7 linked regions of the Homo sapiens genome follow. The protein of the gene in region 4 purifies or fractionates together with the protein of the main gene of each other region. This does not show direct contact. Each region holds a gene or a part of one and is shown on either strand. Other genes may lie near its edges.

Region 1 (4,129 bases), on a different chromosome or scaffold from region 4:
CTGGGGACGGCTGTCTATCCACAAGTTTGAGGCTCAGGGGGTGCCCTGCGGGCTGGAGTGGGGCAGGAAGCTGGTTGCGTCCCTGGACCAATTTTTGCTCCTGCATTCCTTCCATGGGCAGGACCTGTGCGTGGGTGCTCCCAGTGGGGAGGGCGGCAGAATGGCCTCCCGGAGGCAAACGTAGCTGTGGCCAGGGCCACGTCTCTGCCAGGTGTGGGTGATGAGAGGGGTTCGCGGCTGGGGCAGGCCTCTGCCCCCTGGTGGCTGGCAGATTCTGCGTTCTTGCCAAACCACCAGCTGTGCTGGCGGAGCCTAAGCCTGGTTTAAGGAAGGAGTGGGCCCCTGCTGCAGGCCCCCAACCCGGCTGTGGTCCCTCTATTTCCTGTCTCCCGTAACTGTCCCAGTTACAGCATCTCAGGGCTGGACCAAGCATGCAGGGCTTCCCAGCCCTTGCTGTGCGGATGGAGGCTGATCTGCAGCGAGCAAGGGTGGGGCCTTGAGCTCTTCTCAGCTGCCTCCTGCCTGACTCTCTCACGTGGCTGTGCTGCCTTGACCCTCGGCCCTCTGCTACCTCGGCCCTTGGCCCTCTGTTACTCGGTACCCAGTGGGCCCATGCCTGGCTGGCTGCCTGTGCTCCTGCCCCTTGCAAAGAGGCTCTCCCCATCCCCAGATTCAGGTGGTGCCGTGCACGGCTGGGTCACACCTCTGCTGTCACTGACTGGCTCTGGCCCTTCTTCTGGGAGGATTTCAGGAGTTTCTGAGCCGAGGATTCCCGTCGGGGAGTGTAATTGTGTAACTGAAGTCCCGCTGGTTCCTCTGGCCTCTCAGGATCGAAGTGAGAACGAAGTGGAGAAGGTGAAGAGTGCTCTGATCCTGTGCTATGGGCACGTGGCGGCCCGGGCCCCCCGGGAGCTGGTGCTGGCCAAGGTAGAGTCAGACATCCTCCGGAACATCTGCCAGCACTTCAGCACCAAGGTGGGCACTGCGGTGGGCCTGCCACGCAGGGGAGCTGGGGCTGCCGGGGAGTCACGTCTTAACTCATTTCACTTTTTGTTGTTCAGGTTCTAGGAATAAAGGTAGAAACCAAGGTACAGTGTGTAGGAATTAAGTGCTGGACTGGCTTCTCTCCTCTCGGCTCTCCTCTGGGCGGGTTGAGCTTCATAGGCAGAGGCCGGAGGGGGAGCTTGGAGCTTGCTGGGGCTTCCTGGTCTCCGTCCCCAGGAGGCGTTCGAGAGCATCACCAGGGCTCCTTCCCTGGCCTGGGCCCTGGACGGCAGTGGGAAGAAGGGAGGCGTCTGCGCCTCCGAGGGGCCGGGTCGTGGGCTGTCGCCCCCCAGGGAGTTCAGCCAGCCCCACCCGTCCCAGGACAGCTGGAACCTCCTCTGGCTCTGCTCCCCAGTGCTCATGGGGGCTGTACCTCCCCGGACCCCAGTGAGCACCTAGGAGAGGGGCCAAGGCCCAAAGCCAGTGGAAGTGGCAGTGGAGGCTCCACTGGCCCCCAAGGCCTCACCCCAGCCTCACTAACAAGTTTCCCTTCTGGCCTCCCTGGCACTAACCTGACAAGCCCCTCTCTCAGGACAGTCAGCCCCTCCTTGAAGAATAGGCCCTCTGGTTCTCCTGCGGTGGCTGGGAGGGCGGGGCTGTTCTGAGAGGTTCTTCTCCCAGCCCTTCAGCACTCCCCGGAGGACTCTTCTCCTGCTGTGGGGGGCCCTCTGGTCACACCACACAGTGTCTGCTCTGTGGCCTGTCTTCTCTGGAGTGTGACATGGGGGAACCCCTGGGTGGCCCCCCGCTTCTTCCACATGGACTTTGATAAGCAAAAGGGCTGGCTAGAGAGCTCCTTTGAGAGCAGAGTGCAGCACTTCTGGTTTCAGAGGAAAGAAAAGGGGGTATGCGCGGGTTCAGCCCTGGAGGGCGGGCGTGGGCGTCTCCTGTAGCCCTGCGTCCCTGCAGGACCCAGCCCTGAAGCTGTGCCTTGTCCAGAGTGTGTGCATGGTCAGCCGCGCCATCTGCAGCAGCACCCAGGCTGGCTCCTTCCACTTCACCCGGAAAGCAGAGCTGGTGGCACAGATGATGGTGAGCGTGGCCGTGGCCTGGCAGGTCCTCAGGCAGGTTCCTGGGAGACTGAGGCCAGAGGTGGGGACTGGGGCACTGAGGGTGATAATGTGAAGACAGCCTGGGAACATGGGAGGGGCCATGTAGGGACACATGGGGCTCTGCTCCTCGGGCCCCGCCTGTCACTTAGGCTGGGGGACAGAGCTTGACCAGGGAGGAGAGCTGGCGTTTCCTCCAAGGGCTGAGTCATGCACCTGCCTCACCCAGGAGTTCATCAGGGCAGAGCCCCCGGACTCCTTGAGGACACCTATTCGGAAGAAAGCCATGCTCACCTGCACTTACTTGGTGTATCCTTTCCTGCCTCTGCACAGGCCCGTGCAGCTGCGTGTGTGCGTGCATGTGTGTGCATTGTGTGTGCACGTGTATGCGCGTGTGCATGTGCGTGTGTGTGCCTGTGCTTGCGTGTGTGCACGCCTTGTGTGTGCGCATGCTGCATGGGGTGCCGCCATGGTCTGGAGCAGAGTAAACATGGCAGTGGCTGTGCTGCCCACACAGGCCTGGAGGTTACTGGGTGTCTGAGTTTCAGCCTTAGGATCATTGTCTGGGGCCCTTAACTTGCCTCTCAGCTCCGTGGAGCCAGCGCTGGACGAGCAGGCCCGGGCGGATGTGATCCATGGCTGCCTGCACAGCATCATGGCCCTGCTGCCTGAGCCCAAGGAGGAGGACGGAGGCTGCCAGAAGGTATCCCTGTGTTTCCCTTGCCTGTGTCCACATCCGTGAGAGTGGTGGGAGGCCACTGTAGGCTGCGGGGTCACTGGTGGGGCTGGACGGCCTGGCTCTCCTTCCAGTCCCTGTATCTGGAGACACTGCACGCCCTTGAGGATCTGCTGACGAGCCTCCTGCAGCGGAACATGACCCCCCAAGGCCTGCAGATCATGATTGAGGTGTGCAGGGGGGAACTGTCATGGGGATGGGGATGGGGGCACAGAGGGCACTCCACCTGGCTGCTGGCCCTCTCTCCACATGTGGGCACCACAGGGACAGTTTGGTGCTCTCTGCACTTGGGGGTGGTTTATGAACAGGCAGGTGCACCCCCTCCCATCTGGGCTGGCAAGCAGTTGGGGAGGCCCTGACCCAGGTGGGACCTCTGGAGCCTGTCCTCTCCCGCCACTGCATGGCGCGGGGATGGAGGGGCCCACGGGTACCCATGGCTCCTGACTGGGGGCCGCTACCAGGGTGGTGCTAGGGTGGGGCCGACCCCCATGCTCGGAGTGTGTTCTTCTAGGACCAAGGTGGCCTCCACCCTGTCCCTCCACAGTCCTGGCTGGCCCTGGATCCACCTGGGCTGGGTTGTGTCTGTGACCAGACTGGAGGACAGAGTGGCAGGGCCAGAGGAGCTACGGTGGCCTAAGGCTGGCACCACTCTGGGTCCCCGGCTTGGCCCCCTGTAGCCCAGGAAGGATGGCCTGGCAGGGACACTGAGCTGGCCCACGATGCACAAGGCTCCTGCCCCCAGGGCTGCCCTCTGAGCAGTACCTGTGTGACGCCCCTCTTCCTCAGCACCTGAGCCCATGGATCAAGTCCCCAAGAGGTCACGAGCGGGCGCGGGCCCTGGGCCTGAGCGCCCTCCTGCTGCGCTACTTCCTGGAGCACCTGCGTGTCAGCGTGAGTACCTGGGTCCCTGGCCCGGGTGCTGCTGCCTGTGTTACTCATGACCCAGAGTGTGAGCTGCCTTCCTGGCTTCCTCTGGCCGCCGCCCCAGCTCAGGCCACAGTCCTCTTCCTTGAGACCTGGATTGAGGGCCTGTCAGGGCCAGGAGTTGTCAGGGATGGCTGCTCAGAATAGAGTCCGTTGTCATCAGGGGTCCACTGTTAGCCGGAAGGAACATGCACCTCTGGTCTCCAGGGCTTCACTGTTGAGCGCGGTGCTTGATTTGGTTGGCGATATTTTTATCATGTTCCAGAAGCATCTATTTGTTTTAATGAGAACTTTTATCAGGAACAGGTATTAGATTTTGCTAAATATCTTTTTATCATCTGTCAGGATTATTCTAGGCTTTCTTTTCTCTCTCTTT
Region 2 (4,129 bases), on a different chromosome or scaffold from region 4:
CTGTTTTCCATAGCCAGAATCTGGCAGAATATAGCAGTTTAACACTTTGAAAACTTGAAATATCTTTAGCCTGGTATAATATGAGAGTAAACAGTTCATTGATATTTATGGACTCCTAAGTTTGGTACTGTTTTATTCAGCAGACAGGTACGATAAGCATCTACCTTCCCACTCCCTACAACTGTAGTGTATGATACTGGGATGCTTAAATTAGAGGCTCACCAGTAGTCATGGACCAGATTTTTTTGTTTTTTTTAGAGTTTTCATTAGAACTGTATATCTTGCTACTTAGCAGAGAGTCAGAAGCATTAGTAGGATCTCCTGTTGTGAATTCCTGCTTGGTAAAGGTTTATGCTGGCCCTGTGTTGATTATTGAGTAGCAGATCATTTTGTTTTTGGAGAGGGTTTGTGTGTTTCACCTCCACAAAACACTTATTCCCCGGAAGGGGAATGGTGGTGCTCTGAGGTGCAAAGAGGGATTCTCAGGTGCCCAGAACCTCTCATTTGAGGAATGCATACCCCCACGGTGTTATTGAGGGCTGAAGTTAGATACGGTAACTGATTTCTTAATTGTATATTTCCTATATGGGTATGGGAATGGGCATGATCAAATGATGAAGAATGATTGGCATAGTGTTTAAAACAATATTGACTTTGAGGATCTTCCCCCACTCTGTGCACGTGCACACACACACTCTTGCAGGCCAATCCCTCAGTAACAGGAGTTTTCAGTTGAGTATGAATATTTCTGCTTCCTTTTAGGAGTTAAATTTCAAGAAAATATCCTTAGACTGGTAAGCTTTTGGTATCTTAACTGCTAAAATCTGAATATTTGACCATTAAGATATATTCCAACTCTTAAATGTCTATCTTGAAAATTAAGATTAACATGACCTTTTTTTTTAATTTCAAAAAATTGCTTTTAAACATTTTCTATTCTCTGAATGTTTGTTCCAAGCATGTTGGGGATAGGTGGGAACAGACAGAATGGAGGTGAGGTACTTCTATTTAGGACTGGCATCGCACAGAAGGAATATGCTTCAGTGCTCCTGTTGAGTATTTTTAAATTCTAGTCAAAGAAAATAGGGCTTTTGGCATTCTCATTAGTTAGAAATATATTTAGGATGTCTTCCCTTTTCTTTAGACAAAACCAGAATATCCAATATGTAAAAGTGAACTATTCTGGTGAAGATGGGGGGTTTTGTGAAGACCTTTCCTGTCCCACATGACTAGACGATGAGGCATTCACATTATTTCCAGGTGAAGTTTTACTTGTGTGTTAGGTGGATCTCTACAATGATGAGACCTTTCTTGTTTTACCTTCTTCCTAGACTCTCTGGAACTTTTGATTTTTTTTTAACCATGAACCTGTATTTCACAATAAACTATTGGTATAGTAGTGTCATTCATACCCTACCCCATCCCCAACAACTTTGCGTAGAGAATACCTCAGATTTGTTTACCTCAGGGAATACTTAATTGGGCTATGCTATACAGGATAATAAATACACAGGCTGCTACTTCAGACTAGTCAATTACAATTTGATTTATGGATAATCATATTACGAAATATCTTTGAAAATCTATTGAGAAGTCCCCACATAATGTCTTTAAAACCCAGGAAATTTTTGGGGGTGGGAGTCTTGGGTTGGGTTTTTTGGAGCCTTTTTTTTTTTTTTTTGAGACGGAGTCTCACTCTGTTGCCCAGGCTGGAATGCAGTGGCACGATCTGGGCTTACTGCAACCTCCGCCTCTCGGGCTCAAGCAATTCTCCTGCCTCAGCCTCCTGAGTAGCTGGGATTACAGGCGCCACCACACCCGGCTAGTATTTTTGTATTTTTGGTAGAGACGGGGTTTCACCACGTTGGTCAAGCTGGTCTTGAACTCCTGACCTCAGGTGCTCTGTCCGTCTTGGCCTCCCAAAGTGCTGGGATTACAGGCTTGAGCCACTGCACCTGGCTTTTTTTTTTTCTTAAGCGAAGTCTCGCCTGTCACCCAGGCTGGAGTACGGTGACTTAATTGTAGCTCACTGCAGCCTTGACCTCCCAGGCTCAAGTGATCCTCCTGCCTCAGCCTCCAGAGTAGCTGGGACTATGGGTGTGTGCCACCACATCTGGCTAACTTTTTATATTTTATAGAGGTGGAGTCTTGCTCTGTTGCTTAAGTTGGTCTTGAACTTCTGGGCTCAAGCCATCCCCTGCCTCATCCTCCCAAAGTGCTAGGATTACAGACAGACATGAGCCACCACCACACCTGACCTGCATTTTCTTAAGACTAGTCTTTAGAATAAAAATACACACCTTAGTTTCCTAATCTTGTTGACTGCCCTCAGAGTTTGACCACCGTTGAGTTAGTTATTCAAGGATGCTTAACAGTTCTTGATTTCTGTATGCTATTGTTTTTGTTTTGGCTATTTCACTATCTGTTAACATTCTCTATTAAACTATAGATAAGAGTTAAATTTTAGAGTGGTTTTCAATGAGTGCTCATCTCTGCTAATTTGAAATGGTACCTTTACTTTACACATGGGTCTGAGCTTTCCCTTGTTTCACTGGTCTTAAGCTACTAACTTTCCAGTGTATTGATTATTGTTGGAAGCTGTAGGGTTTTACTTTCTGTTTTTCCTCCCCAAGATTTTCCACTGGAATTGTGATCAAGATAACATTAAACCTTTTAGGCTAAGGTCTTTATAAAGTTTTTAGCCTTCCCATATATGTATTCAGATCTTTGCTCCCAATTTTTTTTTTTTTCTGAGATGGAGTCTTACTCTGTTGCCCAGGCTGGAGTGAGGTGGCCCAGTCTCCACTGACTGCAACCTCTGTCTCCCAGGTTCAAGTGATTCTCCTGAGTCAGCCTCCAGAGTAGCTGGGACTACAGATGCTTGCCACCACATCCGGGCTAATTTTTTTGGTATTTTTAGTAGAGACAGGGTTTCACCGTATTACCCAGGATGGTCTCGATCTCCTGACCTCATGATTGTCCTGCCTCGGCCTCCCAAAGTGCTGGGATTACAGGTGTGAGCCACCGCGCCCAGCCTCCTCCCATTCTTTCGGTGTTTGACTTGGGTGTTCTCCTATAGAATTAATACATACTAGGTATGGTAGAATTCTTATTTTTAGTCACTGGCCTTACTGTTCCTTAAACATTTCAAGTTTTTGCCTTAGGGCCTTTGCATTTGCTGATATCTCTGTCTGGAACATTCAGCGCCCAAATAATCAGGTGGTTTGCCCCTTCTGTACCCATAGTTAATGTACACAGCTTGCTAGCTTACTACATTTATGTCATGCTTATTCCTTGACCCTCCCCACCCAAATGGTGCCCCCCCTTCCATCACTCTCCTCTTACCCTTCTTTATTTCTCTTCACAGCATTTGTCAGTACTTTACATTATTCCATACTAGAAGGTGAGTGTCAGTTCTATTAGAACAGGAACTTGGTCTTATTCCCTCCTATATTTCGGTGCCCAGAATAGCACTTGGCACACAGTCTTTTGAGTGAGTGGATGACCTTGTGCACAATCAGTTATTATCATTGAACTTCGGTAAAGCATTAATTGTGGCATCTTTGTCAGATGTTTAGATAAGATGGTTGGCGTACGCATAGTCTGCATGTTGTATTTTTAGTCTTTGAAGATATGAAGTCAGGTAAGCAACATCCTAACATAGTCTATTTCTTGACATCTCTTACAAACGTAGAGTATAGCCTATCCTCAGGTGTGTGCTGAAGTTTATATTAGGGCTTTTGGGTACCTTAGAATGTGGGTATTGCAATCTTTATTCAGGATGTTATCAGTCACTGGTACAGTTAGTCTTGTTATTAAAAGAAAAAAGAAAAAAAAACAGGTAGAAGTTGGAATTAGCCTTCGTAGGAAGAATTCCAGATGCAAATGCAGGAAAAACTCTGTTGTCCTTGGAAACTACTCTGGAGAGAGTTATTGGCACTATAATTCCCAAACCTACCCTGTTAAAAGATTCTGTGGAAATGGGTTAACCTTTATACCTTTTAAGATATTGATCTTAATGATGTTTTACAGGCAGATCCAGTTCCTAATGGTTTGCGAGCTTTGCCAGTTTTCTATGCCTGCACAGTTGGAATAAACCTCTTTTCCATCATGTATACTGGAGCACCGT
Region 3 (4,129 bases), on a different chromosome or scaffold from region 4:
TGCTCTAACAGATCTCCCTGCTGTGCGTGCCCCTCGCGCCTCAGGTCCCGTTTTGTCCCCCCGGGTGTGGGGAGTAGGCAGACGGAACACTGGCCTTGCTGGGCCTCTCCGTGCAGGGGTCTCAGGGAGGGAGGATGCGTATCTTGCAGAAACCAACCCACCCCCACCTCTGTCCCAACCCCAGTACATCCTGTTTGGGCATGTATTTAACACAAAGAACCCAGGGCCTGAAACTGGATTTCTGTGACCTGAGAGTTTGTTTATACTGACTTTTGATGAGTCTCTTAAAATAGATCTTCATCCTCTTGCATCATCTGTCGTTTTAGAAAACGATTTATTTACTGAGGTGAGTCGGCGGCATGGTGCATGTTAGTGAGACTCTCCGGGCCCGGCCAGCACTGGGGGCAGGGGAGGGGATAAGGAGGCTTAAAGCCACAGGCTAGGGGATCAGATTGAGCCTGTGACGCGTCCACCAGACTGTACGCCAGCCGTCGGGGAGCCTGCCCTCACCACCAGGCAGGAGGTGCCCTGGGATGGCTGTTGTGGGGCCTGGACACGGTGGGTTTTGCTACATGAACAGCATTGGCTGTTTGCTTGGTGTTTCCAAATCTTTTTACTGACCTGAGTGCTTGTTCTCAGACATCCTTATAGTATTTTGTCAAAAAACAATAATTTGAAAATAACTTTAGCCTCATTACTCTCATGATGTGGGATTTTTGCCTCTTTTTGTCAGGCCCTGTAAGAAATGCACTGTGTTAAGTCACTATAGCACCATCCAGTGCCCTCCGTTAAGTCACTATAACACCACACGGTCCCCTCTGTTAAGTCACTATAGCACCATACGGTGCCCTCTGTTAAGTCACTATAGCACACACAGTGCTCTCCGTTAAGTCACTATAGCACCACACGGTCCCCTCCGTTAAGTCACTATAGCACCATCCAGTGCCCTCCGTTAAGTCACTATAGCACCATACGGTCCCCTCCGTTAAGTTACTATAACACACACGGTGCCCTCCGTTAAGTCACTATAACACACACAGTGCCCTCTGTTAAGTCACTGTAGCACCGCGCAATGCACTCAAAGTCACATTTTGTTTCTTTTTCTATTTGTCATTCATGTTGTTTCAAATCTATGAATACAACTCTAGCCTCAACAATGTCTGTTTTTTTTTTTAACTTAGAAGAATTTGTCCTTGAAAAGGCCTTCTTCAAGAATCTTTTCACTTTTCCCTGAAATCTGGTTCAGGTACATAGAGCCCCTTCCATTTCCTGATATTTATTCAACCTTTGATCACAGGCGGCATCCTGGAAGCCACAGGGCTTCTCGAGAGCATCAGAGAGACTTTGGCCTGTGGGGAAACGGACTTTGGTGGCCTCTGACTTCTGGCTACTTTTGGGGCTGGGGCTGCATTTTCTGCCTGGAGCCTCTCAAGAGTAGCCAGCGGCACCGTTTGCCTCTCCAGGGTAGGGGAGCTGCTCAGGCCCCGTTACCGCCCTGGGCTGTGAGGAGAGCCTCCTTTGTAAGCAGGGACGGTCGAGGGTGTACTTCTTAAAACGAAAACAGCCTGGATTTGTCAGCTTATCGCTTTGGGTCATTAGCAAGATCACTTGAAACTGAATTTTCTTAAAGCAGTGAGGATAACCAAGGTTACCCAAAGCAAGACAGCTCTCCCTTTCCTCTGCAGGACTTGGTGCCAAGGGGAAGCGGGACCTCTTGAGCTCAGTTTGGCCAGGGAGCTGAGGAGGAGCAGAATTTGAGAAAGAAAAGTGTAGATTTGATTGTTCGTTTTCCTGTCCTCTCTTTTGTGCCCACAGGGTTTTTAAGTTCCAGTAGCCCCAAACCCCTCATCTACAGAGACTTTAGTCTCCAGGACACCCAGAGAGTGTGGGGCATGGACCCCCAGGCCCCGCTGTGTCCTGGTCCTGAATCCTGCCCGGTTTGTGTCTCCCCTGCAGGCGGGTCGTTAACCAAGCTGGCCTACTATTCAACGGTACAGCACAAAGTCGCCAAGGTGCGGTCTTTCGACCACTCCGGAAAGGTGAGCCTGCACTGTGGCCACCCGGGGCAGGGCAGCCGCTTCTCTGTCGTCTTGGACCTGGCACTTGTCTCGCAGTCATCCCTCTGCTGCTGCAGACCTCGACTTTAGTGTCCTGGGAGTTTCTAGCAGGGACAGCCTCCCCTGCCTTCCGCCGTGTCCCTTCAAGACCCTTTGTAGGAACCTGCGCCCGCCTGTGCTCCCCCGGGAGAGGCTTCCGCTCCTGCTGGGTGGCCCTGAGGTCGCCACGGTCCTAGGCTCCTCCCTCTTGCCCAGGATTCTGCCTCAGAGCGCCGCCTGGTTGAAGGCTGGCGCGAACAGCCAGCTCCACTAGGGCAGGGTGCGCACAGCCCAGCCCGGCGCGGTGTCCCACACACATGCGGCCTCCCCTACTCTGTTTTCCAGGACACAGAACGTGAACATGAGCCGCCCTATGAGATTTCAGTTCAAGAAGAGATCACTGCTCGACTGCACTTCATTAAGTTTGAGAATACCTACATCGAAGCCTGCCTGGACTTCATCAAAGACCATCTCGTCAACACAGAGACCAAGGTCATCCAGGCGACCGGGGGCGGGGCCTACAAGTTCAAAGACCTCATCGAAGAGAAGCTGCGGCTGAAGTGAGTGGGGATCTCAAGGGCGAGAAAGGAACATGTGTCTGCCCCCGAGTCCCTGGGTGTCCCAGAGCCGCGTCCCTGGCGCTCGTGTGTCAGATTGCGCATGGGGCATGGCTGCCCCTTCGGACCAGGCAGGCTTGCATGGTTGCACCTGTCTGTGGCCCAGACTCTTTAAGGGGTTGGCGCTTCCTTTTCAGAGTCGACAAGGAGGACGTGATGACGTGCCTGATTAAGGGGTGCAACTTCGTGCTCAAGAACATCCCCCATGAGGCCTTCGTGTACCAGAAGGATTCCGACCCTGAGTTCCGGTTCCAGACCAACCACCCCCACATTTTCCCCTATCTTCTTGTCAATATCGGCTCTGGAGTCTCCATCGTGAAGGTAAGACCCGGCTTCATGAATGAATGAGTGGATGGTTTAGCCATAGTTTGTTAAGCCCTCGCTGTGTGCAGGAGCCAGGGCTGGGCACATGGATGGGGCCCAGTGGGCGGGAGGGGGGTGGCGAGGCTGTGAGCTCAGAGCCTCTGTGGGAGGGGCATCAGCGCCCCCAGGCTTGGCCATGAGAGTCCTCCCACTGGCGGTTGGGGTGGGGGCGGGGTTCACCCCAGCGCAGCACATGGGGCGGGGGGCGGGGGAGCCTGTGTGGCTGAGGGCCCACTGAGGGCACACCTGCCCTGGCTCTGTTGCAGGTGGAGACGGAGGACAGGTTCGAGTGGGTCGGCGGCAGCTCCATTGGAGGCGGCACCTTCTGGGGGCTTGGCGCTCTGCTCACCAAAACGAAGGTATGCGGCAGCTGCCAGAGACCTTCCAGGGGTCTGCGGAGATGTCTGCTTCCTTCCCCCGAAGGCCTGCAGCTGGGCGGTGCAAAAGCTGCTTCCGGGCCTCCCTCCTGACTCGCGTCAGTGGGTCTCTGGCCTCTGCGGCTTCACTCTTTGCGCCCTGAGGGTTGGGTGTCCCAGCAACCCAGAGCTTCTATCCTGGCTGGGTGGCCCGAGGGTCCCGCTTGCCGCCTCCTGCCTTTGGTCCCACGCGATGAGGGCCCATTTACCCCCTGCCCGCGCGTGCCTCCTGCCATGGGCTTGGTTTCTGGGGTCGTGGGGATTCCAGCAGCTCCTGGCGCCTCACCCGCCCCCTCGCCGTGTCCTGCAGAAGTTTGACGAGCTCCTGCACCTGGCCTCGAGGGGCCAGCACAGCAATGTGGACATGCTGGTGCGGGACGTCTACGGCGGCGCCCACCAGACTCTCGGGCTGAGCGGGAACCTCATCGCCAGCAGCTTCGGGAAGTCGGCCACCGCCGACCAAGGTGCTCACCCCGGCCTCTGCCGCCAGAGAGCAGGATGGTGGGGACACTTGGGGTCTCACGGACAGGAGCTTCCCCCACCATTGCTTTCCCACAACTGCTCCCTGGAGAGTCGGGGTCTTGGGTGTCAGCCCTGTAACCTCTTCCTGCCGAGTCGCTGCAGCTCAGGCCCACTG
Region 4 (4,697 bases):
AAACTACCATCAGAGTGAACAGACAACCTACAGAATGGGAGAAAATTTTTACAATCTACCCATCTGACAAACGGCTAATATCCAGAATCTACAAAGAACTTACATAAATTTACAAGAAAAAATCAACCAACCCCATCAAAAAATGGGCAAAGGATATGAACAGACACTTCTCAAAAGAAAACATTTATGCAGGCAACAGACACATGAAAAAATGCTCATCATCACTGGCCATCAGAGAAATGCAAATCTAAACCACAATGAGATACCATCTCACACCAGTTAGAATGACAGTCATTAAAAAGTCAGGAAAAAACAGGTGCTGGAGAGGATGTGGAGAAATAGGAACACTTTTACACTGTTGGTGGGACTCTAAACTAGTTCAACCATTGTGGAAGACAGTGTGGCGATTCCTCGAGGGACTAGAACTAGAATTTGACCCAGCCATCTCATTACTGGGTATATACCCAAAGGATTATAAATCACGCTGCTATAAAGACACATGCACACATATGTTTATTGTGGCACTATTCACAATAGCAAAGACTCGTGAACCATCCCAAATGTCTATCAATGATAGACTGGATTAAGAATATATGGCACATATGCACCATGGAATAGTATGCAGCCATAAAAAAGGATGAGTTCATGTCCTTTGTAGGGACATGGATGAAGCTGGAAACCATCATTCTGAGCAAACTATTGCAAGGACAGAAAACCAAACACCGCATGTTCTCACTCATAGGTTGGAATTGAACAATGAGAATATTTGGACACAGGGAGGGGAACACCACACACCGGGGCCTGTCGTGGGGTGGGGGGAGGGGGGAGGGATAGCATTAGGAGATATACCTAATGTAAATGACAAGTTAACGGGTGCAGCACACCAACATGGCACATGTATACATATGTAACAAACCTGTACATTGTGAACTTAAAGTATAATAATAATAAAAAAAGGTAAAAAAAAAAAAGTAGACACATACTATAATCACCTTGAAAAAAAAAGAAAGTCTTTCAAAGAGATAAAAAATTCCATATACTCCACTTCCTACAATTCTGGCAGTTTCCAAATACTTTTACTTATGTGAAAATGCTATCATATCCAAGAGTGCCTTTAGAGCTAAGCTAACAGTAGGCTACTGATCTTTAGCACATTGCTTTTTCTGTTGTGTTATTCAGGGGGCTTTCTCACATTTATGTTTCCATTTTTCACATTTCACAACTTTCTTTGGAGCACAGATATTTCAGGAAGATTTTAGAGCCTTTGAATAGCATTATGGACTTTTTTGCATTAATTTTTACTTTTACAAAATTGTGCTAAATATTATTTCTGTTAATTAGTGAGTTTTGTTGGGGGCCCCTTAAATTGGAACCCCAGGCTATGCCTCATTTGCTTCACTCTGGTCCTGGCCCTGAGAGAGGAACACAAAAGGGATGGTTAGAAAAACAAGAACAAATGAGCCTCCCAGAATTTTCTCAAACAACAGGCCAGTTAATTAAGGAAAGTAGATATTACATAGCTAGGTATAATGAACATGCAGTCAGTGGATTGTCTCAGTAATTTATGGAGATAACCACCAACAAAAAGTGTATGTGGGTGGGGACAAAAGAGAGACAACAAAGTACTGCAGGCAGAAAGCTTCCTTTTGCTGATTTTGCCTCACAGAATTGAGAGTTTGTTCTTACACACAAGTTTAATGCCACCTTCCTCTGTCTGCCATGGACCAACAAGCAATATATGCTGAGTTAAACTTACCCACAGACTCAGGCCCAGAAAGTTCTTCACCTTCATCTCTTCCTCGGGGTAAGTGGCTTTAATTTTCCTTTCGGCATTTGTATGTCTTCCAGAATTAGATCTTCCTGTTACATTTATGGCTTTAAATCATTGCTTTAAAGATGAGCAGTAGTTTTATATTAATGTTTAACGGGTGTTGCATGGCTTGCCTGTAGATAATCACAACTTTGGGAAAAAAAATTTAAACCTCATACATTTATTTTTTTCAATCAAGTTAGCATGAAAAGCAAACATCACTTGTCTTACTGAGCCTTGGTTAAAAGACTCTGAACACTTTAGGCTACCCTGGGCACACTGCCTATTGGTTACCCCTGCTCTACAGGGATGGAAAGAAGGAAGAAAGAAAGAAAGAAAGAAAAGAAAGAAAGAAAGAAAGAAAGAAAGAAAGAAAGAAAGAAAGAAAGAAAGGAAGAAAGAAAGAAAGAAAGGAAAGAAAGAGAAAGAAAAGAAGAAAGAAAGAAAGGAGAGAAAGAAAAAGAAAGAGAGAGAAAGGAAAGGAAAGAAAGAAAAAGAGAAGGAGGAAGGAAGGAAGGATGGAAGGAAGGAAGGAAAAATATTTTACATGTATGAACTAAGGAATATTTAAGACACATTGCAAACTTGCTGTAATAACAACCTACGTTATTCCAAATTCCTCTACAAAATATCAATACTATGATTAAGTCCCAGTGCATTTTCATCCATAATATTCCTTTCAGAATACAACGTGTAGGCCAGTTGCAGTGGCTCATGCCTGTAATCCCAACACTTTGGTAGGCTAAGGTGATTTGCTTGAGTCCAGGAGTTTAAGGCCAGCCTGGGCAATGTGGCAAAACCTCATCTCTACAAACAATACAAAAAAATAGCCAAGTGTGGGGCACGTGCCTGTGGTCCTAGCTACTCGGGAGGCTGAGGTGAGAGGATTGCTTGAGCCCAAGAGATCAAGGCTGCAGTGAGCTGTAATTGTGCCACTGTACTCCAGCCTGGGTGACACAGCAAGACTATCTCAAAAAAAAAAAAAAAATATATATATATATATATATATATATACTTTTTATACATATATTTTATATATTTTATATATATATATATACTTTTTATACATATATTTTATATATTTTATATATATATATATAAAGTGTAGGCTTAATGAGTAACATACTTCACTCTCTCAAGAGAGGGGAACACTTTCTGGAAAAAAAATCATATTCAAGATCAAAGATTTGAATATCATTACTACCTGATAGTTTCTAGTTTGAAAAGTATCACAGCTTAGAAAGAGACAAGCCACAAAAATACTCGAGCATATCAGTAACGAACCTACTTACCATTTGTTGAAACTGGCACTTTCCTGTGTCTCTGAAGAGTTAGCATTCTGAGTGAAAGAAGCGGGGAACACCAATGTGAGGTAACACATGATGGATAGCATGGCCTGTGGATGGATGGGAAGAAACTAGAAACTGAGGCAGAAAATCAGCATGAAATTATTATGACACATTATTATTTTCTGATATCTAACTGAATTTACTATCATTGATAATATTACAATTGTTTACCAATCTGATATTCATTCCATGTCATGCCAAGCATTTGACTTGTGCTGTTTTAAGACTGTTTAAGTTTTAAACTATTGAATTCTCAAAGTTTTAAGTCAAGAAGAAAGTCTTAGAGCCGTCAATTAAGTTTCAGTATAATTTTCACATAAGAGTAGAGGAAATCAGAGGGTTCTAATAACTATAGGGAGGATTTGGTTGAGTAACATTTTTTTTTAAAGAAAAGAGTAAGTCTTTCTTTTCCTCTATTCATATCTAGCAAAAGGTGGAAAGTGGGCTTTTGTCAGAAAATGAATATAGAGGTAGTGAGACTCTTCCCAAATGTTGCTATGATCCCAAACCAATGGATGCAGAAATTTTTTCTACTTGGATTGTAATAATTATCCTATAAAATGTCATTCTGAGAGTAAACCTGAAGAAAAAATAAGAGTAGAATAAAGCCAGAGCAAAATATGTGACTATAGAACACTGGTCTGATATTGAATGACAGTAAAACCACTATTGGTCTCTGGCTAAACTGCTGAGGCTGTGGTCACTCTGTAGCAAGCACGGTGATTGTGTCTAAGGCAGTCAACAAAACCAGAAGGAGAGATGTGAGTGATAACCGATCTTGCTTATGGCCAAATGGCCAAGGGTTTGGTCTGTTAGAAAAGTGGATAAGGTGTTTGCAAAAATGCCCCTAGAGTTTATTCATTCATTAAAAAATAAGCTCCTACTCTGCACCAGGCATGCTGTGAATACAGCAGTGAACAAAATAGAGAAAATTATTTTCCTTCATAGAGTTTATAGTAAAATAGAGGCACACTTGTGGAAGACAGTATGGCGATTCCTTAAGGATCTAGAGCTAGAAATACCATTTGACCCAGTGATCCCACTACTGGGTATATACTCAAAGGATAATAAATCATGCTGCTATAAAGACACATGCACACGTATGTTTATTGCGGCAGCATTCACAATAGCAAAGACTTGGAACCAACCCAAATGTCCATCATTGATAGACTGGATTGAGAAAATGTGGCACATATACACCATGGAATACTGTGCAGCCATAAAAAAGGATGATTTCATGTCCTTTGTAGGGACATGGATGAGGCTGGAAACCATCATTCTGAGCAAACTATCACAAGGACAGAAAGCCAAACACCGCATATTCTCACTCATAGTGGGAATTGAACAATGAGAACACATGGACACAGGGCAGGGAACATCACACACCAGGGCCTGTTGTGGGGTGGGGGTAGGGAGAAGGGATAGCACTAGGAGAAATACCTAATGTAAATGACGAGTTAACGGGTGCAACAAACCAACATGGCACATGTATACATATGTAACAAACCTGCACATTGTGCCCATGTACCCTAGAACTT
Region 5 (4,129 bases), on a different chromosome or scaffold from region 4:
ACACACACAGTGCATTAACAACAACAAAAAGATGTCCTGGAAATTCCTAAATACTAAGAAGACATCAACTGTAAGAGACACTAGGGATTTAAAATAACCATCGTTTCTCGGCCTTTTGGCTAAAAACAAGTAGAAAATAACAGTCTCTTGTTACGAGACAGATCTGGGAGGGGAGTGCGTAACTAGTACGAGTAAACATCATTGTAACGTTCCCAAGCCCAGACTCTTCATTTCAAAGTGTTAAAATATACTATTTTACCCTTTAAAATAGAAACAGAAATCATGTTTTCTGTCATTTTGTTTTTTTGAGATGGGGTCTTACTCTGCCATCCAGGCTGGAGTGTGGATGACATGATCACAGCTCACTGCCGCCTCAACCTTCCAAGTTCCAGTGATCCTCCTGCCTCAGCCTGAGTAGCTGCGACTACAGGCCCATGCCACCACACCTGGCAAATTTTTGGTTTTTTGTTTTGTTTTTAGAGACAGGGTCTCCCTAGAGTGCCCAGGCTGGTCTCGAACTGCTGGGCTCAAGTGACCCGCCTGCCTTGGCCACCCAAAGTGCTGAGATTACAGGTGTCAACCAATGTGCCTGGTCATCTTATTTGTTTAAAGCTAGGTTTAGTATGGTATCATGTACCATCAGAACTATTTTATTTTACTTTTTATTTTATTCTTCTCTTCTCTTCTATTATTTCTTCAGATAGAGTTTCGCTCTCGTTGCCCAGGCTGGAGTGCAATGGTGCGGTCTTGGCTCACTGCAACCTCTGCCTCTTGGGTTCAAGTGATTCTCCTGCCTCAGCCTCCCAAGTACAGGCACCCACCATCATGCCCGGCTAATTTTTTTGTATTTTTAATATAGATGGGATTTTGCCATGTTGACCAGGCTGGTCTTGAACTCCTGACCTCAGGTGATCCACCCACTTTGGCATCCCAAAGTGCTGGGATTACAGATGTGAGCCACCGCGCCTGGCCATCTTATTTGTTTAAAGCTAGGCTTCGTATGATATCATATAGCACTAGAACTATTATTTTAATGTTCTAAAATATAAAGCATTCTAGGAAGATGGGGTGTTGATCTTTTCTCCATTGCAGCCCTTATGAACCAAGTGACTGATCCTCACTACTCCGACAGACACAGCCAGATTGTGACAAACTCCCTAAAAATTCTGAAGGGAAGTCAAGGTCTGTAATCATTCAGGGTTAGCCCACCCAGACTTACGCTATGGGATTAGAGTGTGTAAGACGGGCTAATGGTTATGGGACACCTCTGGGGTGCTGTCACTTTTTCAGAAAAGTCTATAAGGATGCAAATGGGTGAGAGGGACACTTCTCTAAATTCAGCAAATAATTAGCAAACTTCTGCCTCTTTTGGATTGATGCTATTATCTGTGATCCACAAGATGTCAATCTCCCACCCCCATCTCCTTTTTTTGTTTTTCCAGAGACAGGGTCTCACTCTGTCACCCAGGCTGGAGTGCAGTGGTGTAATCATAGCTCAATGCAACTTTGAACTCCTGGGCTGAAACGATCCTCCAGCCTCAGCCTCTCGAGAAGCTAGGACTACAGGCACACACCACCATGATGGGCTACTTTTTTTTTTTTTTTTTTTTTTTAAGAGAGATGGGGGTCTTGCTATGTTGCCCAGGCTGGCCTGGAATCTAATGGATCCTCCTGCCTCAGCCTCCCAAAGTACTGGGATTACAGGCGTGAGCCATGACATCTGGCCCACAAGATGACAATCTCATATGGTTTAGCTTAGTATTAGTAAATTGCTTCTGACACACATCACCCAGGGGTGCATGATCACCCCCAGACGGGAACAGCGGTATGAAGATACTCAATAGCAGAGTCGGTCGCTGGCAGTCTTGCATCACTAGGATGACAGTTAACGGGAAGCACTTGCAGGGCTTTCTGACTCCAGAAGAGCTGTGTCCCTGCACTTAAATGCCGCGGGCACTGCATGTCTACAGTGCCGCTGTCTGCTCTTAATGATTCATCTGTCCTCCGCGCTCATCAAGCCTCTCCATCCTTTCTGCAAGGCCGGGGTTTGGCTTTATACCCAGCTCAAGGTGCGAGGAAAAGATCGAGGCAAAGAGACAAGGTGCTAAGGCGGCCTCCTCCACCCGCTCCTGCAGGCCCACCATGCCCACCTGTTGGCCACGATGCTGGGGTAATAGGCCTTCTGGTTCTCGTCCACCTTCAGGTCACTCTGGTGGATGAAGCGCTCCTGCTCCTCGAAGGCTCGAATGACGCTGACCCCCAGCAAGGTCTCGTTGAAATGGGAATAGACCGGGGAGCGGCTGACCGACTCGAGGCGCTTCAGCTGCCGGGAGGAAGCCACGTAGAACCTCTGGGGTAGAGAACAGACGCGGGGAGTTGATGAAGGTTCCCTCCTGCCATCCTCCCAGGGCAGGGCTGTGCTGGAGAACATCTAGACGTAACCGATACCTCCAGGAGGCAAAATGTTAGAGCCGGGCTGCCCTCACAGGGGTGCCCACTCACCTGGTGAACCACAGGAATAGCACCACCAATGACAAGGACAGTGACAATAATAGCTCACGCTTATACAAAGCCCACAGCCCCAGGCATCGTTCTAAGCAGTTTTACAAACATCAGTTCATTCAATCCTCACAAAAAACCTGAGGTGCTCATTCCTATATGTGATGGGTAGACTAAGGCACAAAGAAGCTAGTTAATCTCCTCCCCAAGGTCACATGGCTAGCAAGGGGCAGAACTGGGATTCAAACCCAGGCCATCTGGGCTGCAAAGTGCTAACCTCTACCCTGTACTGCCTCTCTGAAGCCTTTCACCTCTAGGGTTTTCTGGAACCAGCAGTGTGGTTTTCAGCATAGGCTTTGAGGTCAACGAGACCTCAGTTCAAATCCTGACTCAACTACTGACTGGCAATATAAACACGACTAACACTTTACTTCTCTAAGCCTCAGTTTCCTTATCTGTAAAATGGGAACAACAAGGCTTGCTCGGCCAGGTGGGGTGGCTCATGCTTGTAATACCCGCACTTCAGGAGGCAGAGGCGGGAGATCACTTGAGGCCAGGAGTCTGAGACCAGCCCAGGCACATGGCAAAATGCCATCTCTACAAAAATAAAATATTATTAAGAAAACAAACGAAACAAAACAAAGCTTGCTTCACGGGGTCATTGTGAGGGTGACATGTAAGAGTTACAGTCTTACATGTGATGTGTATTTGCGTGGACACATTATTTCATAAATCATATAGATATGCATGATGTCACTAAGCACAGTGCCTGGTAATACTAGGTTGAACCACAGGAAATAGCTGTTTCTGTAGATAAGAAATAAGTATTAGCAGTTTCATATAGTTTGACCTAACAGTAAGCATTCAGTTAGCTGGTGACTATTGTTATCATTAAGTGACAGAATTCCGCCTGTTGATCACATCCCCTCAGGAGTGACTGTGTCCATGCAATGGCCGGTTCCAGCACACTCAGCCCAGCTGAGATGCCCATGAGGATAGGGTCAATCTCGTCACCCCCCTCCGATGGCCTCCCAGCGCTGTTAGAGTTGCCAACCATGCTTCTTCCCTCAACTCATCTCATCCTGTAACTCTCCCCTTCCTTCCCTGCACACAGGCCGCCTGCCTCCACCCACCATGCCCATCCCGTCCAGGCCATTCCTCATCACCCAGCAGATGGGAGCACAGATGTCACTTCCTCGGGAAGCCCTTCCCATCCTCCATGAGCACCTTCTCCGGGCTTCAGTGTCCCAGCTCCCGGGCTACGATGATACGTTTCACAAGCAGCTCCACCCACCCTCGCGGGCAGATGCTTCATCTGCTCTGCCTCCCCCAACCTGGGCATTCAGCCAGTGCCAGGCACCAAGAGCCTCCCGATAAGTCTTGTTAGATTCAGAACAAAAGCCAACCACCTTCTGCAAGCTTTGTGGAGCTGTGGATCAGAGGCTGCACCAGCCATGTGAGGACACTGCGCTCTCCTAGCCTAGGTTTTTCTCATCTACGCAAAAGGAACTGGTGAGCCCGGGGTTCCTGATTCCACAAGGTGCCTACAATTGCTTATCGACAGGAGAGCTGGGAAAACTAACAAAGGGTTGCTAGGAACTCGGCCTCCCTGCATCCTGCCCTGGGCCAG
Region 6 (4,772 bases), on a different chromosome or scaffold from region 4:
AATATTATGGAAATAAAGTTGTCTAGACTCCGTCTTTTACGTTCACTAAATGTCATGCATAATGCTTGAGTCTCCTCCAGCCATTTCATGTATGTATCTCTTATTTCCCCAAACTCATTAACAGTTTCTCTAAAGCAGCAGCTAACTTCAGCATGCATCAGTGTCTTTTGGAGGGCTTGTTCAAACACAGCTTCCTGGCTCCACCCTCAGAGTTTCTGATTCAGAGGGTCTGGGGGTGGGGCTTGAGACCTTGCATTTTTGATAAGTTCCCAGGGAACTTACCTGCTGTTGGTCCAAGGACCACTTTGAGAACTACTGCTCCAGGGAGAAGTGCTATATTTTAAATTTTAAGAATTTACCCACCAGCCCAAGGTGCTTACCAAATGCACATGGATGGAATCTCTCCAAATCTACATCTTTGCCATGCTTTTGAAGCCTTAACTTTTACTCCTGGAGGTCTTCCTGGCTAGGCCCTAGACTTAAAAGACACTAATTCCTTGTTTTATTTTATTAGATTGTCGTTTTTGCTTTCTTCTCAGCACACTTGATAAGACACTGTGAAGAAAATGTCCCTTCTGATCTCGTTTTTAACCTGTCTTGGAACAGATCAGCAGAAATGCCTTCACTGTGAATCAAAGATACCCTCGATTTATAGCCAAAGATTATTTCCTTTTCTTTTGGTGGCTTCCAGATAAAATGTTTCTTGCTACCCTTTCACAAAATAGAAGGAGGGACCAAGCGGAAGATAATCTTTTTGTTCAGAGGTCCATCTGTCAAAGCCTGCATTTTAGAGATGGCATTACTGAGGTCCAAAAACTAGAGCCACTCGCTCTGGGTCATACAGCCGATAAACGCACGCAGCCGAGCTCAGTTCTTCCCTGACCCTGTTACAAACTGCCTCACTAAATGAGGACCCCCATCCCCTTCCCATGCCAGGAAAGCACAGCTCATTTGTCCTAAAGTTAACATTACACAAATCACACCCTTCAAGCCTTCTTGAAACATTTTTTTTCCCCGAGGGTGACGGGACGGTTACGCTGATTCATCCTGGCCAGGGACCCCAAACATCTCCCCTCCTCCGGCCCAGGCGCCGTCACCCAGGCTCCACCGGTCCGCGGGACAGAGCCGCGGAGAGCGCCTGGAAGCGTCGCGCCCTCAAAGCCAAGCGATTAAGTTGGTTCCTCAAATTGTTCCCGACAGGAGGGGCAGGAAATAACACCGGGCTCTGGCGGCGGCCGCAGCAGGAGGGGGAGAAGAGCGGGCCGTCTCCCGGGCAGTGCTGGCGGCCTCTCATCGATCTCGGGTCTAAGGTCCGGCCGGGTCATCATTCCTGCCATTTCCACAGCATTCGAGGTACCACATCACCCCCTGCCTCGGTCGTCGCTCAGTCATTCCCTCCGCGCCGAGTCCTGGAGCGGCGGAGTCCCTGGAGGCCTGGGTTTCCTTAAGGGGCCCCAATGCCCGCAGCCCCCGACCCGCCCAGGTGGAAGGAAACAGGCTGCGGGCCTGGGCCAGGCGGGGCCTGACAGAAGTAAAGGCCGGGAGGGGGAGCGGAAGACGGCCAGAAGGACCCCTGCGCCCTCTCCTCCGCGCCGCCCGCCAGGCTGCCAACCCAGCCACCCTGGGTGCGACGCGGCGCCTTCTCCGCCGCTGGGAGTCGGGCAACAGGTGAAGAGGGCGGGCGTCCGCGGCGCCTCCGCGGGGCGGTCCCTCTCCTGCCCGCCTCCCGCCCGCCCCTCTCCCCGCCCCCTCCCCTCCTCCGGGCCTCCACCGCCTTCCCCGGCTGCCCGGCAGCCTCCCCTCGCTCGCTCTCCTCTTCCTCTAGGGCCCCAGCGCAGCTCGGGAGCCCGCGCACCGAGGCGCTAGGGGCACCGCGCACTAGAGGGACACCCGCCGCGCCTGGACAGCCCCCGGCGGGCGCCCCCCTCGCACCTCCTGCCCCGCGCGGGCCGCGCTCCCCTCCCCCGCGCCTGTGTCCCCAGGGCGCAGGGCCGCGCGTCCAGCCCCAGACCCGCCGGGGTCCCTGGGGACGCGCCAGCCCGGCAGTGGCTCGACGATGGAGGAGCCGCAGCGCGCCCGCTCGCACACAGTCACCACCACCGCCAGCTCCTTCGCAGAGAACTTCTCCACCAGCAGCAGCAGCTTCGCCTACGACCGGGAGTTCCTCCGCACCCTGCCCGGCTTCCTCATCGTGGCCGAGATCGTGAGTGCCGACGGGCCGGGGGTGGCGGGGGGCTCAGCTGGACCCCGGCGCGTGCTTCCGCCGTGCTTCTCGGGATGGAGCCTGCTCAGATCTTCCCGCGGGCTTTAGGGAACCGTTTTTGCTCAGCCTCGCCTTCTTCCCAAAGTGAAAGACTCTAAACAAGGTCCAGGAAACTCGGGCTGTCCTGGGAAGAAAGGGTTGTGATCCTCAGGATGTCTTGCTGTGGGAGAAATTCAGCTTGTTGGGTCCTCTCGGTGGCGGCGGCAGATCCTGGGAGCAGGAAGCTTGGCTTAGTGGCTATTGAGTTTGTGTTGAGTGTCAGAGACACCTGGTGCCTTTCTCACCTGATCTCCACGTGGATGGCCTCCTCCCTGAAAATAAAGCTTCCTAAGATCAGGGGAAGAGGAAAGGGCTTCTTTCTTTTCCTAATTATCTCCCTGGTAGTAACATTGAGGTGAGTCAGGAAAATTTTACTGAATAAAATCTGAGTGCCATAACCTATTTTAGGACCAAAGAGGTCTTTTGCATGGTGCTGTGCACATCCTGGTTTAGGCTCAGAACATTCCTGGGAAGGAGGCAGGGCATGGGCGTTCTTCTCTTCATTGGAGGGCATAGAGGCTGAAAACTCACGTGATCTTCCCAGAAGTCCCAGCCAGTCCTTCATAGCTGAGAAAGGACTGGAGTCCTGTCAGCAGTTAGAGGTGGTCACTGTTTGAGTCTTCTTCGTGTACCAGGATCTTGTCAAGCCCTTTAGATGTCCTCATACCCTCGTGTAATCCAACGACCACCCTCCCCTGTGAAGGCCTAGAGAGGGGACGTAAATCACACCGGTGGATGGTGAAGCATGGATTCAAACCCAGGCCTGCCTTTCTGCAGGGCCGTGCTCATAACTGCAAGCAGTTGAGACAGCTTCCAGCTGCCCCAGCAGTGCCCCTCTGTCATCTCTCACAGACTTTTGTTAAATATTTGGGAATTGAAAATGAGCCTATGTGGGAGTTAGAGAATGGGCACACCATCATGGTGCAGAAGTGACTGAAGACCTGGGCGGTTCCTTTGAGAAACCTGAAGTAAATCTTGTGTACCTCAAGTAGCTTGCTTGCTCCCCCAGTCTCAGATACCACCCGGACCTGCTCTATGAAGCCCCTGGTGGTCATAATGCACATAAGGTATGAGAAGTGTTGGCTTAGCTCCTCTCCCAGCTGGTTCCCTCAGCGAGTATTGAGGACTTCAGGAGACTCAAAAGCTGAAGGTATTGGAATCGCCTTGCAGGGCCTAGCTTTTAGGAGTTCAACAAATATTTGCTGTGCAAATGAAGGAGTTGGCAGGCTCCTCTGCTTCAGCAGCGCAAACAAAAGCTAAAATGACAGAGATGGGCCTTCTACCTTGGGGTGGATTTGGGCCAGGCATGAAGTATAACGCCTTTGGGTTTTTTTCTGATTTATTATCGATATGCTCTGTGTACTGCGCTTTTTCAGGAAATACAAAAGTGAAAGAAATGTAAGTGGCCCACAATCCCATTACTAGAAATAATCACTGTTGACATGTTAGCATGTATCCTTTTAGATTTCATTAAGCGTTTTGAAAAAGATGGGAAAACATGTAAGCAAAATCACCCTTATTACTACTATAGTTTTTATTTTTGACAGAGCTAATTATGCACCTTTTTTGTTTGTTTTGTTTTGTTTTGAGACAGGGTTTTGCTCTGTCTCCCAGGCTGAGGTGCGGTGGCACCATCATGGTTCACTGCCGCCTTGACCTCTTGGGCTCAAGCGATCTTCCCATCTCAGCCTCCCAAGTAGCTGAGACCACAGGCATGCACCAACACACTTGGATAATTTTTAATTTTTTTCTAGGGACGGGGTCTCTCTGTGTTGCCCAGGCTGCTCTGAAACTCCTAGGCTCAAGCAATCCTCCTGCCTTGGCCTCCTAAGGTGCTGGGATTGTAGGCATGAACCACTGTGCCCCACCTTATGCACATATTTTAAAGATTCGGTCCTACAGGCAGAAATATAAGTTTCTCCCAGTGTCTTCATCTCTTTGAGCTCTAAACAACGTGTTTATAATGCTGTTTATTGGTGTTCCCTCACCCACCCAGTCATAGACATTATCCATTGCCTTTCTACTCTGAAAGATGAGGCTTTAGCTGGGATGCCCTCTTCCCTGCCTCCAATTATACATACCCTCTTCCTGTCTCCCAATATAGGTCCAAACACTTCTGATGGTTCAACTTAGGAATTTTCAGCTTTACAGATGTTGTAAAAGCAGTATGCATTCAGTAGAAATCATACTTCGAATTTTGAATTTTGGTCTTTTCCCAGGCTAATGATATTCGGTAGATATTTTTTCATGATGCTGGTCAGCTCTCAGCCACCCATGCCATCACCAGCGCAAACCACCCATCCTCTCCAGCATGCTGTGCTGCTGGGTGATTCTGCCAGCTGTAGGCTAACCTAAGTGTTCTGAGCACGTTTAAGATAGGCTAGGCTTAGCTATGATGTTTGGTAGGCTAGGGGTATTAAATGCATTTTTGACTTCGGATACTTTCCACTTAGGATGGGTTTATCAGGAT
Region 7 (3,752 bases), on a different chromosome or scaffold from region 4:
TCAGCCTCCCAAAGTGCTGGGATTACACGCATGAGCCACCAGGCCTGGAAGGAATAGAATTTATTTTAAGTAAAATGGAAATGGGTGAAGATGATAAAATTCAAAAAATGGACACCACGTCCTTGGGACATGACTGCAATGGGTCACTAGAGCACAGGCATGTGCCTGGAGTAGGTGCCACCAAAGTGGAATGTGCTTCCCGGGTGCACAGTTCTAGTGTTTGAATCGCTCCTAGAAGGTGCTTGAAATTCACCAGCATGTCTTGACAAAATGGCTGATTCCAGGGCTGGGGCTAGGAAAGTGCGACATGAGCCGGGAACGTCTTACGGTGCCAGGAAATAAGGAAGTACTTAAAGAGTGATGGAACATGTCAAAAGGACACAGGAGGCAGCTTCAGAGGCTTCCTTTGGCCAAATCTGAAACAATTTGAGCATCAAAATAAAAATTGTGGACAGCAAACACAGAGGGAAGGTCCTGCCAGAGTCACCACTTGCTGAGTGATTAGGCCTCCGAGAAAGCAAGGCGGCTGGGGGACATGCGAACACGACGAGTTCGGCTGTGCCTGCCTTCTCCTCACTGCCCAGGTGTGTTCTGCGGCCAAGCGTCCGAGTGCTCTTATCTTCAGTGCCTATCATGCACATACGTAACCCACAAATACTGACTGAATTAGAATTAGGGTTATTAGGGTTATGACTTAGGGAAATCTTTCAATGTCCTTGGCTTCTATTTCCTCATTTGTCAGATGAAACTGAAATACAAGCAATGCCTTATAAATTTGTTGTAATGGGGCCATGCATGGTGGCTCATGCCTGTAATCCCAGCACTTTGGGAGGCTGAGGCGGGAGGATTGCCTGAGCTCAGGAGTGCAAAACCAGCCTAGCCAACATGGCAAAACCCTGACTCTACAAAAAATACAAAAATTAGCCAGGAATGGTGGCCCATGCCCGTAGTCCCAACTCCTCTGGAGACTGAGGTGGGAGGATTGCTTGAGCCTGGAAGGTGGAGGTTGCAGCGAGCCAAGATCGTGCCACCGCACTTCAGCCTGGGCTAGAGAGTGAGACTCCATCTCAAAAAAAAAAAAAAAGGAAAAAGAAAAAAAGAAAGAAAGTTGTGATGGATAGCTAGTCACAACTGGAAAGCCTCCCAGGTAGCCAGGGGACCTGAGTGATTAGGCACTGCCTGGTGCCGATGCCCAGATAACACCAGAAGGGAACTCACAGTTGCTTTCCTGGGTTGAGAGAGCCGAGGTCCAGCTCCCTGTCGAACTCAGTGCGAATGTCCTCCAGGGCCCCGTCGTCCCCGAAGGCCCCCCACTCTGTGTTGATGCACATCCTGCCCTCGTCGCCCTCCACCAGGTCAATGTTGCTCATGTCCTCCATGTAACACGCATTGGTGCCAGTTCCTGAACCAGGGATCAGAGAGAATATGCAGAGAGAGGACTCCCAGCTGGGCACAGACAGAGAACTCTTGACTGCTGGGGAGTCCTCCTCAATGTACCACAAAGTGCTTTTCATTCCCTGGGGGCTGGCTCTCGCTGAGGGAAGCAGCTTGGGCAAGCCCCAAGCACATGGGGAAAACAGCTGACATGTCAAGTCTGCACTTCTCAGGGTGCTCAGGGTTTGCTGTTCTGAATGGAGTCAATTGTGAAGAAGTCCGCTGATGAATATGGATGAAAGCTGACGAAGCGCTCTTACAAGAGGACAAATGAAGATAATCTTGTAAATATTTTTTTCAAAAAATCACCAACCCAGGGTAATTTTGAAAATTCTTTCCTTAAGCTACTTAGCTTCCTCTCTATTTGATACTAAAAATATTCTTTACTTATGGCCTGCCACAAATTGTTTCTAGCATAAGCTGCATCCTTATCTTAGACTGTGATTAGCTACCACCTAAGAAAGCAACATTCCGTTATGCAAACACAAAATCGCTCCAAGGAAATGCCTCAAACACTTGAGCACTGGGGAATGACTGCAAGTGGGCACCATCTTTTTGGACTCTTTTGGGAGGACAGAAATGTTCTAAAATCGGATTGTGGTGATGGTTACAAAACTATACGTTTACTACAAATCATTGAATCGTATACCTAAAATCGGAGGACTTTTATGCCTCAATAAAGCTGTTTGAATTTTCGGGTTTTTTTTTTTTTTTTTTTTTCTTCAGTATCTTCCCTTGGCTGATACTCTGGTATGAGTATTTTAAATGCCAACATGGAAAATGAGAAATGTAGAAAAGCAGAATGTAATATTTGGAAAAAGCTTTTCTCAGAAATGCACGGACACTGTTTAGGCGTGGCCCCCCCAATCTGTGGTTACCAGACGCAGCCACAGTGACAGGCGGGTGCCATGACTGGCAAGGGCCTGAACCATTCTGAGGCTCCTGGAAACAGAAGGGTGGAGGGAGCCCCTCAGGTTTAAAAACCTGCCCTTTGGGAAAGCCAGGCTGAGGAGGGTCTTGAGGGACATTAAGAAAAAGCAATTCAGAAGAACTTTCCCCAGGAGTGGTAAAGGAATGGGAAAAGGAGAAGGGGATATTCAAGAACAACCTATAAGTCAGAGCCATTCAGCTTTACTGTACCCCAAACTGCCTTCCCACACATTCCTCCAGCTGACCCCCTCGCTCTGGTGTGGAGACCACCCACTGGAAACCCCCACTGCACCACGACCTCTCTGGTCCACAGCTGCAGTGCACCTTGCCTGACAGTCCAGTGGTCTCTTGGATGGTCACCCTGCTTCCACTCTTGTCCCCAGTAATCTATTATCCACACAGCAGCCAAAATGGGCTTTTAAAAAATGCACATCCGGCCGGGCGTGGTGGCTCATGGCTGTAATCCCAGCACTTTGGGAGACCAAGGCGGGTGAATCACTTGAGGTCAGGAGCTTGAGAGCAGCCTGGCAAACACTGTGAAACCCCATCTGTACTAAAAATACAAAAAATTGGCCAGCCGTGGTGGTGGGCACCTGTAATCCCAGCTACTCAGGAGGCTGAGGCAGGAGAATTGCTTGAGCCTGGGAGGCAGAGGTTGCAGTAAGCCAAGACTGTGCCACTGCACTCCAGCCTGGACGACAGAGCAAGACTCCGTCTCAAATAAAAAAATAAAATAAAATGCGCATCCATTTATCCATCCCCCACCCAGAGTCCCCCAGTGCCTTCCAGTCTCCCTCAGGGGATAAGCCGGTGACCTTACAGTGACTGTGTGCACATCCTGTGCAATCTGCCCAGTCTGTCCTCTGCCTCTCACTTGAATGGCCTCCGACTCTCAGCCTTCACTCACCTCATCCGGACACCACTCGGCTATAGGGTTCCCCCAGTGCCCCCTCCCTGGACCCCTTCCCATCTCCAAGCCTGTAGGTGTCCTCTTTCCTTTGGCAGGGACTCCCTACCCTCGGGCCTCCACCTTGCTCCCTGGTTTGCATCACTGAGGTCCCGGCTCAAATGCCACCCCTCAGAGAGGCTTCCCTGACGCCTCATCCCACTCACAGTCACATCACTCTCTTTGTTTTTTGTTTTTTGTTTTTTTATCACGCTAACCACCACCTGAAATTATCTTAATAGCCTAGGCCTTCTGGGCCTCTCACCCACCTCCCCACTGAAAGTTCCAGGAGCACAGGAACTCCCCACTCCAAACCCAGTGCCAAGCCCAGGGGCCGGCACACAATGGGTGCTCAGTAAACACTTGTCGAATGGATGAATGAATGAATTTTTCATGTCCCTATGTTGCTTCTCCTAAATAGTGCAGTGCCCTTCCCGCCGAA

Evidence for each region.
Region 1: the proteins of KLRB1 (region 4) and MROH1 purify together in Homo sapiens (affinity purification with mass spectrometry; one large-scale study listed by BioGRID and IntAct). This does not show direct contact.
Region 2: the proteins of KLRB1 (region 4) and SLC20A1 purify together in Homo sapiens (affinity purification with mass spectrometry; one large-scale study listed by BioGRID and IntAct). This does not show direct contact.
Region 3: the proteins of KLRB1 (region 4) and PANK4 purify together in Homo sapiens (affinity purification with mass spectrometry; one large-scale study listed by BioGRID and IntAct). This does not show direct contact.
Region 5: the proteins of KLRB1 (region 4) and ABCC1 purify together in Homo sapiens (affinity purification with mass spectrometry; one large-scale study listed by BioGRID and IntAct). This does not show direct contact.
Region 6: the proteins of KLRB1 (region 4) and CMTM8 purify together in Homo sapiens (affinity purification with mass spectrometry; one large-scale study listed by BioGRID and IntAct). This does not show direct contact.
Region 7: the proteins of KLRB1 (region 4) and HKDC1 purify together in Homo sapiens (affinity purification with mass spectrometry; one large-scale study listed by BioGRID and IntAct). This does not show direct contact.

The regions. Positions count from the first base shown.
Region 1 is NC_000008.11:144,241,541-144,245,669, forward strand, and holds part of MROH1 (maestro heat-like repeat-containing protein family member 1), read left to right. Parts: intron 1-828; coding exon 829-975; intron 976-1,061; coding exon 1,062-1,088; intron 1,089-1,953; coding exon 1,954-2,076; intron 2,077-2,322; coding exon 2,323-2,402; intron 2,403-2,681; coding exon 2,682-2,796; intron 2,797-2,903; coding exon 2,904-2,999; intron 3,000-3,615; coding exon 3,616-3,720; intron 3,721-4,129. UniProt on the Homo sapiens protein: Lysosome fission factor. Recruited to lysosomes by RAB7 (RAB7A or RAB7B) at scission sites and homooligomerizes to mediate the constriction and scission of lysosomal tubules. May sever membranes by inserting amphipathic helices into one bilayer leaflet.
Region 2 is NC_000002.12:112,648,670-112,652,798, forward strand, and holds part of SLC20A1 (sodium-dependent phosphate transporter 1), read left to right. Parts: intron 1-4,032; coding exon 4,033-4,129. UniProt on the Homo sapiens protein: Sodium-phosphate symporter which preferentially transports the monovalent form of phosphate with a stoichiometry of two sodium ions per phosphate ion. May play a role in extracellular matrix and cartilage calcification as well as in vascular calcification.
Region 3 is NC_000001.11:2,519,628-2,523,756, reverse strand, and holds part of PANK4 (4'-phosphopantetheine phosphatase), read left to right. Parts: intron 1-1,956; coding exon 1,957-2,039; intron 2,040-2,441; coding exon 2,442-2,656; intron 2,657-2,850; coding exon 2,851-3,034; intron 3,035-3,342; coding exon 3,343-3,435; intron 3,436-3,802; coding exon 3,803-3,956; intron 3,957-4,129. UniProt on the Homo sapiens protein: Phosphatase which shows a preference for 4'-phosphopantetheine and its oxidatively damaged forms (sulfonate or S-sulfonate), providing strong indirect evidence that the phosphatase activity pre-empts damage in the coenzyme A (CoA) pathway.
Region 4 is NC_000012.12:9,604,862-9,609,558, reverse strand, and holds the start of KLRB1 (killer cell lectin-like receptor subfamily B member 1), read left to right. Parts: upstream 1-1,642; 5' UTR 1,643-1,719; coding exon 1,720-1,804; intron 1,805-4,697.
Region 5 is NC_000016.10:16,120,196-16,124,324, reverse strand, and holds part of ABCC1 (multidrug resistance-associated protein 1), read right to left. Parts: intron 2,351-4,129; coding exon 2,151-2,350; intron 1-2,150.
Region 6 is NC_000003.12:32,236,917-32,241,688, forward strand, and holds the start of CMTM8 (CKLF-like MARVEL transmembrane domain-containing protein 8), read left to right. Parts: upstream 1-1,763; 5' UTR 1,764-2,056; coding exon 2,057-2,203; intron 2,204-4,772.
Region 7 is NC_000010.11:69,240,832-69,244,583, reverse strand, and holds part of HKDC1 (hexokinase HKDC1), read right to left. Parts: intron 1,403-3,752; coding exon 1,219-1,402; intron 1-1,218. UniProt on the Homo sapiens protein: Catalyzes the phosphorylation of hexose to hexose 6-phosphate, although at very low level compared to other hexokinases. Has low glucose phosphorylating activity compared to other hexokinases. Involved in glucose homeostasis and hepatic lipid accumulation.